2 separate regions of the Homo sapiens genome follow, and region 1 is reported to be linked to region 2. The links are microRNA targets in miRTarBase. Many come from high-throughput screens and were not tested one by one. Region 2 holds a microRNA gene; the other region holds the end of a gene's coding sequence.

Evidence for each region. Region 2 holds the annotated microRNA hsa-miR-490-3p (CAACCUGGAGGACUCCAUGCUG, at 2,603-2,624, opposite strand). A microRNA usually pairs through its seed, bases 2 to 8, with sites in the 3' UTR of a target mRNA and lowers its output. Matches are read on the target gene's strand: a 7mer-m8 pairs with bases 2 to 8, a 7mer-A1 pairs with bases 2 to 7 and ends in A, and an 8mer does both.
Region 1: the mRNA of ZNF570 is a reported target of hsa-miR-490-3p. The part of its 3' UTR that is shown has no 7-base or 8-base seed match.

The regions. Positions count from the first base shown.
Region 1 is chr19:37,484,371-37,489,764 of GRCh38, reverse strand. ZNF570 (zinc finger protein 570) reads right to left here. Exons shown (of 5, transcript NM_144694.5): 5 at 1,113-5,394. The coding sequence ends at 4,532. Among named protein-coding and RNA genes, the nearest start is that of ZNF570, 18 kb to the right of the region's middle.
Region 2 is chr7:136,900,472-136,905,865 of GRCh38, reverse strand. It overlaps MIR490 (microRNA 490), which reads right to left and starts at 2,699; the gene lies at 2,572-2,699. The region is part of intron 2 of CHRM2 (cholinergic receptor muscarinic 2); the gene reads right to left. LOC349160 (a long non-coding RNA gene) reads left to right here. Exons shown (of 4, transcript NR_046103.1): 3 at 3,865-4,016.

The sequences.
Region 1 (5,394 bases), not on the chromosome of region 2:
TGGTGGACAAGCACTCTTCCTCACTCTGCCATCCTGTTTCTGTTGATATTTTCAACCATTCAGCTATGGATGTCTGAAGCCTCTCTTTGACAGTGATAGACAATTTCCTTGATATTCTTAATTGCTTATTTTTCCATTGACTTATAAATGAGAAAAATATAATAAAAATGGGAAGCTATCAACAAATTCTGCTGGATATTGATTATAATCACAGTGACTAAGTTAGGCATCCATTTTAAAATCCAGAGTTACTATGTATTTGTTTCTGTATGCTGCCTATCTGAAGTAAATTTCTGTCTCTACCGCTTGCTTCTACTGTAACAGCCTCATGCCATTTCCCTTCCTGTTTCCTTTCACAACCCCCAGTATATTTTATAAAATAATAACTTTTACTAAATACTGCTGTAAATTTAACATGTATTATGACAAATGCATGTAACAGTTCTAAAACAAAGAATTACCTCCCTTTAACATCTGAGAAAATTGAGTTCAGAAAGGATAGTAATTGGCCCACAAAAATTCTGGACACTTAGTACACAAAGGGAAATTAACAAATCATGGTGCATATACAATGGGGTCCTGAAAACAATAAGAATGATGATGGGAAAATTAGGCTTATAAAACCCTTAGCATAAAACGTCATTCTCAAATGAGTCAAACATGGAAAGATAGTCTTAAAATTGTTAACAATGGTTGCCTCTGCAAATAGACCATATATAAGCTTCTTTCTGAAGAAAATGGTGGATACAGGAATACCAGTGGCACACCTTGGGAATAGTAAAAAAGTAACTGACAGGGCACAGTGGCTCACGCCTGTAATCCCAGCACTTTGGGAGGTCGAGGCAGGCAGATCACCTGAGGTCAAGAGTTCAAGACCAGCCTGGCCAACACGGCAAAAGCACATCTCTACTAAATATACAAAAATTAGCTGAGCGTGGTGGCGTGTGCCTGTAATCCCAGCTATTTGGGAGGCTGAGGCAGGAGAATCGCTTGAACCTGGGAGACGGAGGTTGCAGTGAGCCGAGATCATGCCACTGCACTACAGCCTGGGCGACAGAGTGAGCCTCCATCTCAAAAAAGAAAAAAAAAAAAAGAACTGATAGAAGCAAACATCATTTAAATATTCTTTATTTTTTTGCATTATGAAATAGTTTATACAGAAAGATACAGAGAGTAAGAACTGACTCATATACTCACAGCCAGCTTTATCAAATTTTAAGAATTGGCTATACAGTATTTGCTTATTTTTAAAAGAAATGAATAATTAAAGGTATTTTCATTTGCATCCTTTCCCCAATCTCAGTTGTCTTTCTCCCTGCAGGTCACCACTGTTCTGAATCTGATGATTATTTTATTAATTCTTTTAGATCCTTTTTATATAGTATTTAGCCATGACAAAAATACATAACACTAATTTGCATGTTTTGAAATTGTACGTTATACTGTATTATATAAAATAGTCTGTAGTTCAATTTCATTAATACTATTTTTGAGGTTTACCCATGTTGACAGAAATATCTCTAGTTATTCATTTTAGTTTGCATTCTATCTTGTATTTAACCTAATGGTTAGATTGCTTTCAACTTCTCATTCTCACAGTTCTGCAATGGACCATCATATGTATCTCCTTGAAACACGAGGAGAGACTATGTAGAGGTTTAAACATGGAATTGCTGGGTCAAAGATTATTCACATCTTCAACTTTACTAGACATTGCCAAATTATGCTAAACACAACTACTTCCTATAGCACCGTATGAGTGTTCCTATTGCTCCACATCTTTCCAGTAATTGGCACTCTAATGCTTTTGCCAATGTGATGATTTTGAACTAGTTCAATGTGATTTTATTTTGCATTTCCCTTACTACTAGTGAATCCCCTTACTACTAGTAATACCCCCAAATCCAATCTTTCTCTCTACTGGTATGAACCATCATCATATGCAGTTTCTACAAATAGATTCGAAATTTTTCTTGCTGCTCTTAAGAATTTATACCTCATAAATTTCAGAACAAACCTGTGAAGCTAAAGGGCAAAACAAAAACAAAAACAACAAACAAAAAAAACCACTGAAACATTTTGGCTGGAATTGCAGTAAATTTGATAATTAGGAAGAATCGCCAACTTTATTATATTGAGTCTCTGCAGTCTAGGCTATATAATGCTCCTTGATTTAGTTTCTTGTTACTCTTCCGTTTTCTGCGTTTAGAAAATCTACTGTTTTATATTTAAGTATTAATTACATGTCTCCACCTCTGGAATTTTACTCCATGAGAATGTGGCCTTTGTATTGCTCACTGTCATTTCCTCATACCTAAAACAGTGTCTGACAAACAGTAATTACTCAATATTAACAGAATGAATGCCTATATTATTTGTGTATCTATCTGTTTTCTTCCCTTAATCCCCTTTTGATTTCAATTTTGCAACCACTGGATAAATAATTTTAAAACTTTACATTTTTCTATAGTATGGAACACTTTACATGCCTTCTAAATTACCCGAATTTAACCATACAATTAGCTGGGGGTAGTGCTTTTTTTTTTTTTTTTTTTTTTTTTTTGAGATGGAGTCTTGCTGTATTGCCCAGGCTGGGGTGCAGTAGCACGATCTCAGCTCACTGCAACCTCTGTCTCCTGGGTTCAAGCAATTCTCTTGCCTCAGCCTCCTGAGTAGCTGGGATTACAGGCGTGCGCCACCACACCTGGCTAACTGTTATATTTTTAGTAGAGATGGGGTTTCACCATGTTAGGCAGGCTGGTCTCGAACTCCTGACCTCATAATCCACCCACCTCGGCCTCCCAAAGTGCTGGGATTACAGGAATGAGCTACTGCACCTGGCCAGGGTGTGGTGCCTATTTAAGGGGATCACATGAATTTCTATGTTTATTGATTTTTTTTGGTTAATTGTGACCATTTCTATTCCTTCCTTGATTTAAATGTAGGTTCTGCATTCTTCCCAGTGAATTCTATTTTTCTTAATTGGCTTATCCAATTCATTATCTGTAGAAACTTCCTAAAACTGGCTGTCAGTGTTATAGTTCCACTACCTGACTTCATAACAACTACTAAGCTACAGTACAAAGACTGCCATTTATGTTCTAACATTTTTAGATTTTCCAAATTCTGAACTGGTGTTTTGCAGGAATGCTCCACTTTGTCCAATAAGGAATCTTGTTTTGTGAGGAGTAGATGAGTTAATATATGTAGAGTATGTAAGACAGTGCCTGATGTGTAGTGGGCACTCAATACATGTTAGCTATTATCATTTATTGAATATCTGCTATATTTGACAGACTATATGAAGTATTTTACATGCAAATTTCTCATTTAATATGCATCAATCTACAACAGACACTATTTCACTTAATACTTACATTTCTACAGTACAGTATCCTATATTATTCCTATTTTAAGATTTAAAGAAAACCCTGAGGTTTAGATAAGCAAATTGCTCAAAGTCACGCAATGCCATAGTAGTGTTGGAGCTATGATTTTCCAGAATCTAAGCTCTTAGTCCTGGGAAGTGCCTAGTGCCCAAAGAAGAAGACTGGAATAAAATAAGGCTGAATGGTGTGTAAGAACCAAATAACAAAAGCCTTGCAGACAATTTTAAAGGCTGTGAATATTAGTCTAAGAACAATAACAAGCAAAAAAAAAAAAAAAGTTTTAACTGGAGATAGTAACATGTGTTTTCTTTTCTCTTCTTTTCTTTTTATTTTGAGACGGAGTTGCAGCCTTGTTGCCCAGGTTGGAATGCAATGGCGCCATCTCGGCTCACTGCAACCTCTGCCTCCTGGGTTCAAGCAATGCTCCTGCCTCAGCCTCCAGAGTAGCTGGGATTACAAGTGTGCACCACCACGCCCGGCTAATTTTGTATTTTTAGTAGAGATGGAGTTTCGCCATGTTAGTCTGGCTGGTCTCAAACTCCTGACCTTGGGTGATCTGCCTGCCTTGGCCTCCCAAAGCGCTGCGATTACAGGCATGAGCCATCACACCCAGCCCATGTGTGTTTTCTTATTCTTTAAAAAGAACACTTTGAGGCTGGGCGTGGTGGCTCATGCCTGTAATCCCAGCACTTTGGGAGGCCGAGACAGACAGATCACTTGAGATCAGGAGTTCAAGACCAGCCTGGCCAACATGGCAAAACCCCATCTCTACTAAAAAATACAAAAATTAGCCAGGCATGGTGGTGCATGTCTATAGTCCCAGCTACTCGGGAGGCTGATGCATGAGAATTGCTTGAACCCTGGAGGCAGAGGCTGGGAGTCAGAGGTTGCAGTGAGCTGAGATCGTCCCACTGTACTCCAGCCTGGGCAACACAGCAAGACATTGTCTCAAAAAGAAAAAAAAAGAAAAAAAAGATCCGTTTGAGTGCATTGTGGGAAATGGATTTAAAGGTAGCAAAAATAAATACAGGAAAACCTGTTTGAAAGCTATATTAGTAATCAGAGTGAGATGAATCAGACCAAGGTGACAACATTAAAGATAAAAAACAGTATAAATTCTAGAAACATTTAGGACTCAGGATCTATAGGACTTGGTGATTGACTGGGTTGGGTGGTGACAGTGACTCCCCAATGTGAATTCTCTGGTGATGAGCAAGGTGTGCATGCTGCCTGAAGGTTTTTTTGCATTCCTTACATTCATAGGGTCTCTCTCCAGTATGAATTCTCTGATGTTGGGCAAGGGATCCACAGTAACTAAAAGCCTTTCCACAAACAGTACATTCATAAGGTTTCTCTCCAGTATGAACTCGCTGATGTTGAGTAAGGGACGAGTCATTGCTAAAAGCCTTCCCACATTCAATACATTCATAGGGTTTCTCTCCAGTATGAACTCTTTGATGCTGAGCAAGGTAGGCAATCTGGCTGAATGCTTTCCTACATTCCTGACACTTATAAGGTTTTTCTCCAGTATGAATTCTCTGATGTTGAGCAAGGTGTGAATTCTGGCTAAAGGCCTTCCCACATTCCTTACATTCATAGGGTCTCTCTCCAGTATGTATTCTCTGATGTACAGTAAGGTATGCACGAAGGCTAAATGCTTTCCCACAGACATTACATTCATAGGGTTTCTCTCCTGTATGAACTCTCTGGTGTTGAGCAATGGATGATCTGTTGCTAAATGCTTTCCCACATTCGATACATTCATAGGGTTTCTCTCCCGTGTGAACTCTCTGATGTTGAGCAAGGTAGGCAAACTGGCTGAAGGCTTTTCGACATACCTTACATTCGTAAGGTTTTTCTCCAGTATGAACTCGCAGATGTTGAACTAGGTGTGCATTCTGACTGAAGGCTTTCCTACATTCCTTACATTCATAGGGTTTTTCTCCAGTATGAATCCTCTGATGTTGAACAAGATTTGATCTCTGGCTGAAGGCTTTTCCACACT
Region 2 (5,394 bases):
AATTTAAAAATATGTATTGATAGATACTCTCGCAATCAATATTTTGAGAAAGTTGAAAAATATGTGGGAGAAAATATTGAAACATAAGGGAAGTAAAAATAATAAAACCACAAAAAAAGAGAAGAGAAAATATGAGAGAATTAAACTACCAATTTAAAAGCAGAGACTGGAAGATCAAAATAAATAAATAAATAAATTCTAATTATAAAATACTTAAAGGGGATTGATCTGAATAAAATGGCACAGATAGTTTAAAATGATGACAAATTCTTTTAGGCAAACTAAAACAGAAGAAATAGGAAGCAGCCATATTAGTTTCAGATAAACTAGAATTACAAGCAAAGTGTACTGAACAGAACAGAGAAAAATAGTTTAGTTATGTATAAAATTCAAAATATGTTTAAAAACCAACAGAATTTGATTCAAACATGATAGGTGCAAAAAATGCAAATACAGCTACAAATCAGGTAGATTTATTTTAAAAAATAAGAACAAAAATAAATGAATAATATAATGAATATGGGAAATAAATACAAATAAAAAACGAGTGCATTTTGTGTGCATGTGTGTGTATATCTTGGCCCTTTTCAACAAAGAAAATGATCTTCAGTTATCCAAACAACTCAAAAACTGAAAAGCTTAGAAAATTCCCAAAATATAGACATTCTAAGACCATATTATTGGGGCAAAATGCAATAAAATTAGAAATTTGTAAGACAATTTGAAATAACAACAAAAGCAACAAACATCTAGCACTTCAGATTTTAAAAATTAAAATTATTATACAAAAAAGAACAACCCAAACTATAATTTTCAACCAATATTAATATTTGTGTTGAACATTTGATTTTGCTATCATCACAGTACTGTACACTTATAAACATATCTCATTTAATCTTACAAAGCACTATAATGTAAATATACTCACTCTAAATTACAAATACAGAAGTGTAGTGAGTTAAAGTCCCTCTCACAACATGTGTGAAACTGTCAGAATTCAAACCTAAGCTCCTTGATTCTAAACCCGTGCTCTTTTTCACCTGGTCTTAGCCAAAAGACTGAAAAGCAGCAAGCCTGTGCTCCCTTAATGTTAACCAGGCTATATTTTAAACATTTAGATGAGACTAAAGCAGTTGTCAGAAACAAATTCATAGCTATAAATGTTCCCAATATTAAAGAAGAAGTATCAAAATTTTATAATGCAGAAGAAACTAAGCTTTAAACTCAAGAAATTATTTTAAAAAGGGAAACAAAAACCTCTACAGAATTAAAAAGAAGTAACTACAAAAGTAAGATAAGTAATAAATTATAAAAATCAAAAGCCACAAAACTCTGGCAAAAAAGCATGAGAAAAACATTTAATATTGGGAAAAAGAAAGGAAAGATAAATTTGGAGAATAATTATTTTAACAGAATCATATGCACAATTATTTGATAAATACTACAAGCATTTTTCTTAAATAGATAATGGTAGCCATCTATAATTTAACAAAATTAATGAGTAGAGATATAGAAAATGTGAATAGGCAAGTGACTTAGAAAAATGTTATAATAATTTTTAAAACTGTTGTAAAAAATGATTTGAGCTTTTTACCAGAAGTTTTCCAGGAAGGGCCATTCAAACATTTAGAGAATTGATCATCGTTCTATGTAAAATTTTCAACAGTATAAGGATGAAGGGGAAGCTACCAATTGGTTTTATATAATCAAGTGATTATGAAATAAATTTCAGCCAAAGATAACTCAAAAATTAAAAAAACAAACTTTTAACTCAGTTTCACTTGCAAATGTAGATGCAAAATGCTTTAGTAAAATGGTAGCAAATGGAATTCAATAGTACATTAAAAGAGTAACATATCATGACAATTAAAGCCATTGGATTTAGAAATGTATTAGTATCAGGAAAACAAATAACATGTCACTTCACATAGTCTGAATAAGAAAATATATATATATGATAATTCCAATACAAGAAAAATAAAACATTTGATAAAGGTCATCTCCTTAATATCATGTACAACACCTACTTTAAACCAAACCCCAAGGCCATATTACTGTTAAAACACTAGTAGAGTTATTAAAACATCACAAGAATGACTGTTTCAGCATTATTAATTAACATTATAAAACATTTAGCCAATTAAAGATATAAATAAAAATGAGAAATATTGTAAAACAGAAGGCGTATTATTTAAGAATAATATGCTGATACACCAACTTTAGAAATCCAATAAATTTAAATTTTAGAAAATTGCAGTCTTAAATGCTAGATTTGCCTGTTACTAAAATTCATTCTGTACATAATTAAAATTCACAAACAAATATTTTACTTATACTTCTATCATTTCTAATCAGCTTTTTAAAAGAGAAATCTTTTAATACTTATTTTCATCCTAGTAGTTTACATTGTGACACCAGCTCTAACAATATCCACAAAAATAACAAATACTTGGATGCTGAGGTGTGAATTTTGTTCCCATTTTTGAAAGCAGGAAGAGTAAGACTTCCTTTTGAAGGAGATTTGCACATACACTATAGAAGACACCCATTTAGTTCTTGGGAAGATGGAGTTGGAAGTGTCCGCTGCTTGTGAACAGCTCAACAGCATGGAGTCCTCCAGGTTGGTGCATCTCTAAACTTGACCCACCTGGAGATCCATGGTGTCGAACAATGAACTTTCCAAACCAGCAAGGCCTCCATAAAGTGAAGGGAGATCCTCTTCACCACCGTTGGTTGAAGAATAAAAAACCTACACCTACACTAGCCCAAATGAGTTTCTGTTGTTTGTCTTCTGTGTCAGAATTTCATTCATTCATTTCCCATCTCTGGCCTATTGTTTAAAGTTGCTGGCCATAATGTATACTTTCCAGACTCCAGGTTAATCCCAGGCTGAGAAGCTTTGTTTGTTTGATAATGAAAAACTGAACAAGGAAACAAGCAAAAACTTGCAAATAATGTGTACCTTATCATAAACATCCAAAGAGTACAAAATTCTGTGCTCTGCAGTTGCTGTATAACAAACATATTAAATTGTACTTGATTGAGCAAATATTTACATCTTACTGTGGAATTTCAAAGTTTAATGTCTACACGTCTTATTAAGGTTGTTATCTATTATTGTATGGTGGAGAAAGGATATCTAGCTGATAGTCATGTTTAAAAACTGACCTGGGTTTGGGACTGCAACCAAATTCTAAGGGCCTAGCTGTTTATGATTTGCCCATTCCATTCAGGGTCGTCCTAATCCCTTCTCAATCTAAGATGCTTCATTCTCACTATAGTTTGCTCGAGAAAGAAAGTGGCTGCTTATGGTATGAGTTCATAAGAGTCATCTAGGATTGTGTTTAATACCCTATCCCACCAGCTTCTAATTTTTACGTGCATTTAATTGGGGCTATATTTGTTAGTTTTCAATTAGAAAGAGACAGATAAAAAGTAAACTGCACACATTATCAGAGGATGCTATAGCTTACCTTCTCACTTATTATGAATTTGCCACCTAAATTCAAACTCTTCTGAAATTTATACCAATTATTAATTCTGAAAGCAATTCTGATTATCTTAATAACTAGCAACTGACTGCAAACATAGAAGGATAGCTAGGTGGATAGATGGATGGATGGATGGATGGATGGATGGATGGATGGATGGATAGATAGATCGATAGATAGATAGATGAGTTTAAAAGGAAGATCACAGAATCAATGTTAGTAGTTAACAATTATTTTTATATTTTGTTTTGAGAGTAGGCTTTGATGGAGCCTAATGAAAGCCATAGAAGAAGCTAAGGGGAGGCTGGACTGTTATAAACAACCCTTCACTTATCTAATACAATTTAACTAAGCTTATCATTTTTTTTTATAGAAAGAGAAATTGATCAGAATCTACTGACAGTTCTTCCTGTCTGGCTGTGTAATGGATTAGCATAGAGACGAGCAGCACACCTCTGTCAGAAAACCTAAATTTAAGTCACATCTCGGGGCTCTAACAATTTACCACCAACAGCGTCTTTGGAGGTCAGCCCCTGAGTCCATGATTCCCCTGTATTATTGGGAAAGAATTAAGAGGTTTTGTGAGTTATGCATGAGATGTGTGTGCAAGTTCTTTGTAAGCTGTAAATCTTACACATTTATGAAATTATCAATGTTGTTATTTTGTAAATGCAACTGATCAAGAGGCTAGGTTCTTACAACAAATGGATCAAAAAGCGTCTGTATGTTCTCAAAAAATAACAATGGAAATGGGGGAAAAAAATGACATCAGGGAATGGCCAAACTGGGTTGCTTAGGGTCCAAAGATCATTGCTATTCAAATCACTGCACTACAAGATCGGGTGAGATCTGCTAATCTGTTTGGGTCACTATAGGTCAGGGCACAGCACATTATAGATGCTAAATAAATGTGTTTTGTATGAATAAATACACATTTTTCTTTTCCTGTAGTCAATATTTAGTGTGTCTATTTTCAAATTTGCCTACGTGGTAAAGCCACAGTGACATTGAAAACTTGCCCTGCAAGTGCCTGTGAATCTGAACTGTCTCAATCTGTTTCTAGCTGGAATGCAGCTAGAACTGCATGCAACCCACTATACCTTTCTATTTTTCCAAGAACCAAAAACCGCAAGTCCACATATTTAATTTCACGTAATTCTCACATGCCTGGATCTTGGAAATGGAATTTTTCCTTTCCCAGGGCACTCGTTTCCACTTTGGGGGTGCCCACACTCCCCGGGCTGTACAGGACAATCTACTGGCTTGCAGGAAGAAAGTATTAGAAACTCCGTTCTCAATTACTGTTATATCATTCTCTAAAAGAGGTTTTTTGTGTATGTACTATGATATACATAATCATGGAAAAATTATTTCTATGTAATTTATAAATAAGAATATATCCATGCCTTGATTGGAGCTCAAAATTCTGTTATGAATAGAGGTGTGTAGCTCACATTCTTGGTACCCTACCCATATCATTCAGATCTTTCAGTGTTCCCCTGCTGACGTCTATATGCCACTGTCTGCTTCTCTGTGTCTGGGGGCTTTTTCAGAAACCTAGGAAGGCCACTCTGCTCACCCTGCACATACGGAAAACCAAAAATGCCTCGGGTGTTTACAGCCTCTAGGAGCAGGCTTTAAATAACAATTCTTTTTTTAAAAAAAAGATTGTTTAGCAGTTGGCAAGATAATTATGAGACGAGCAATTCTGTGCCATTTCTTAGAATGCCTCATGTGTGTAAGCTCCAGTCTCCTCTGAGATGCCCAGCTTAATAGAAACCTTTTTACTGGCAGCCTCTTCTTCCCTTTTCACATCCCCTCCTTCCTAGATGGCTCCTCGCACTTCACAAGTAGAAGTGAGCCTTGTTTCTGGGAGAACCAAACTGAAGTAAGCCTGTGATCA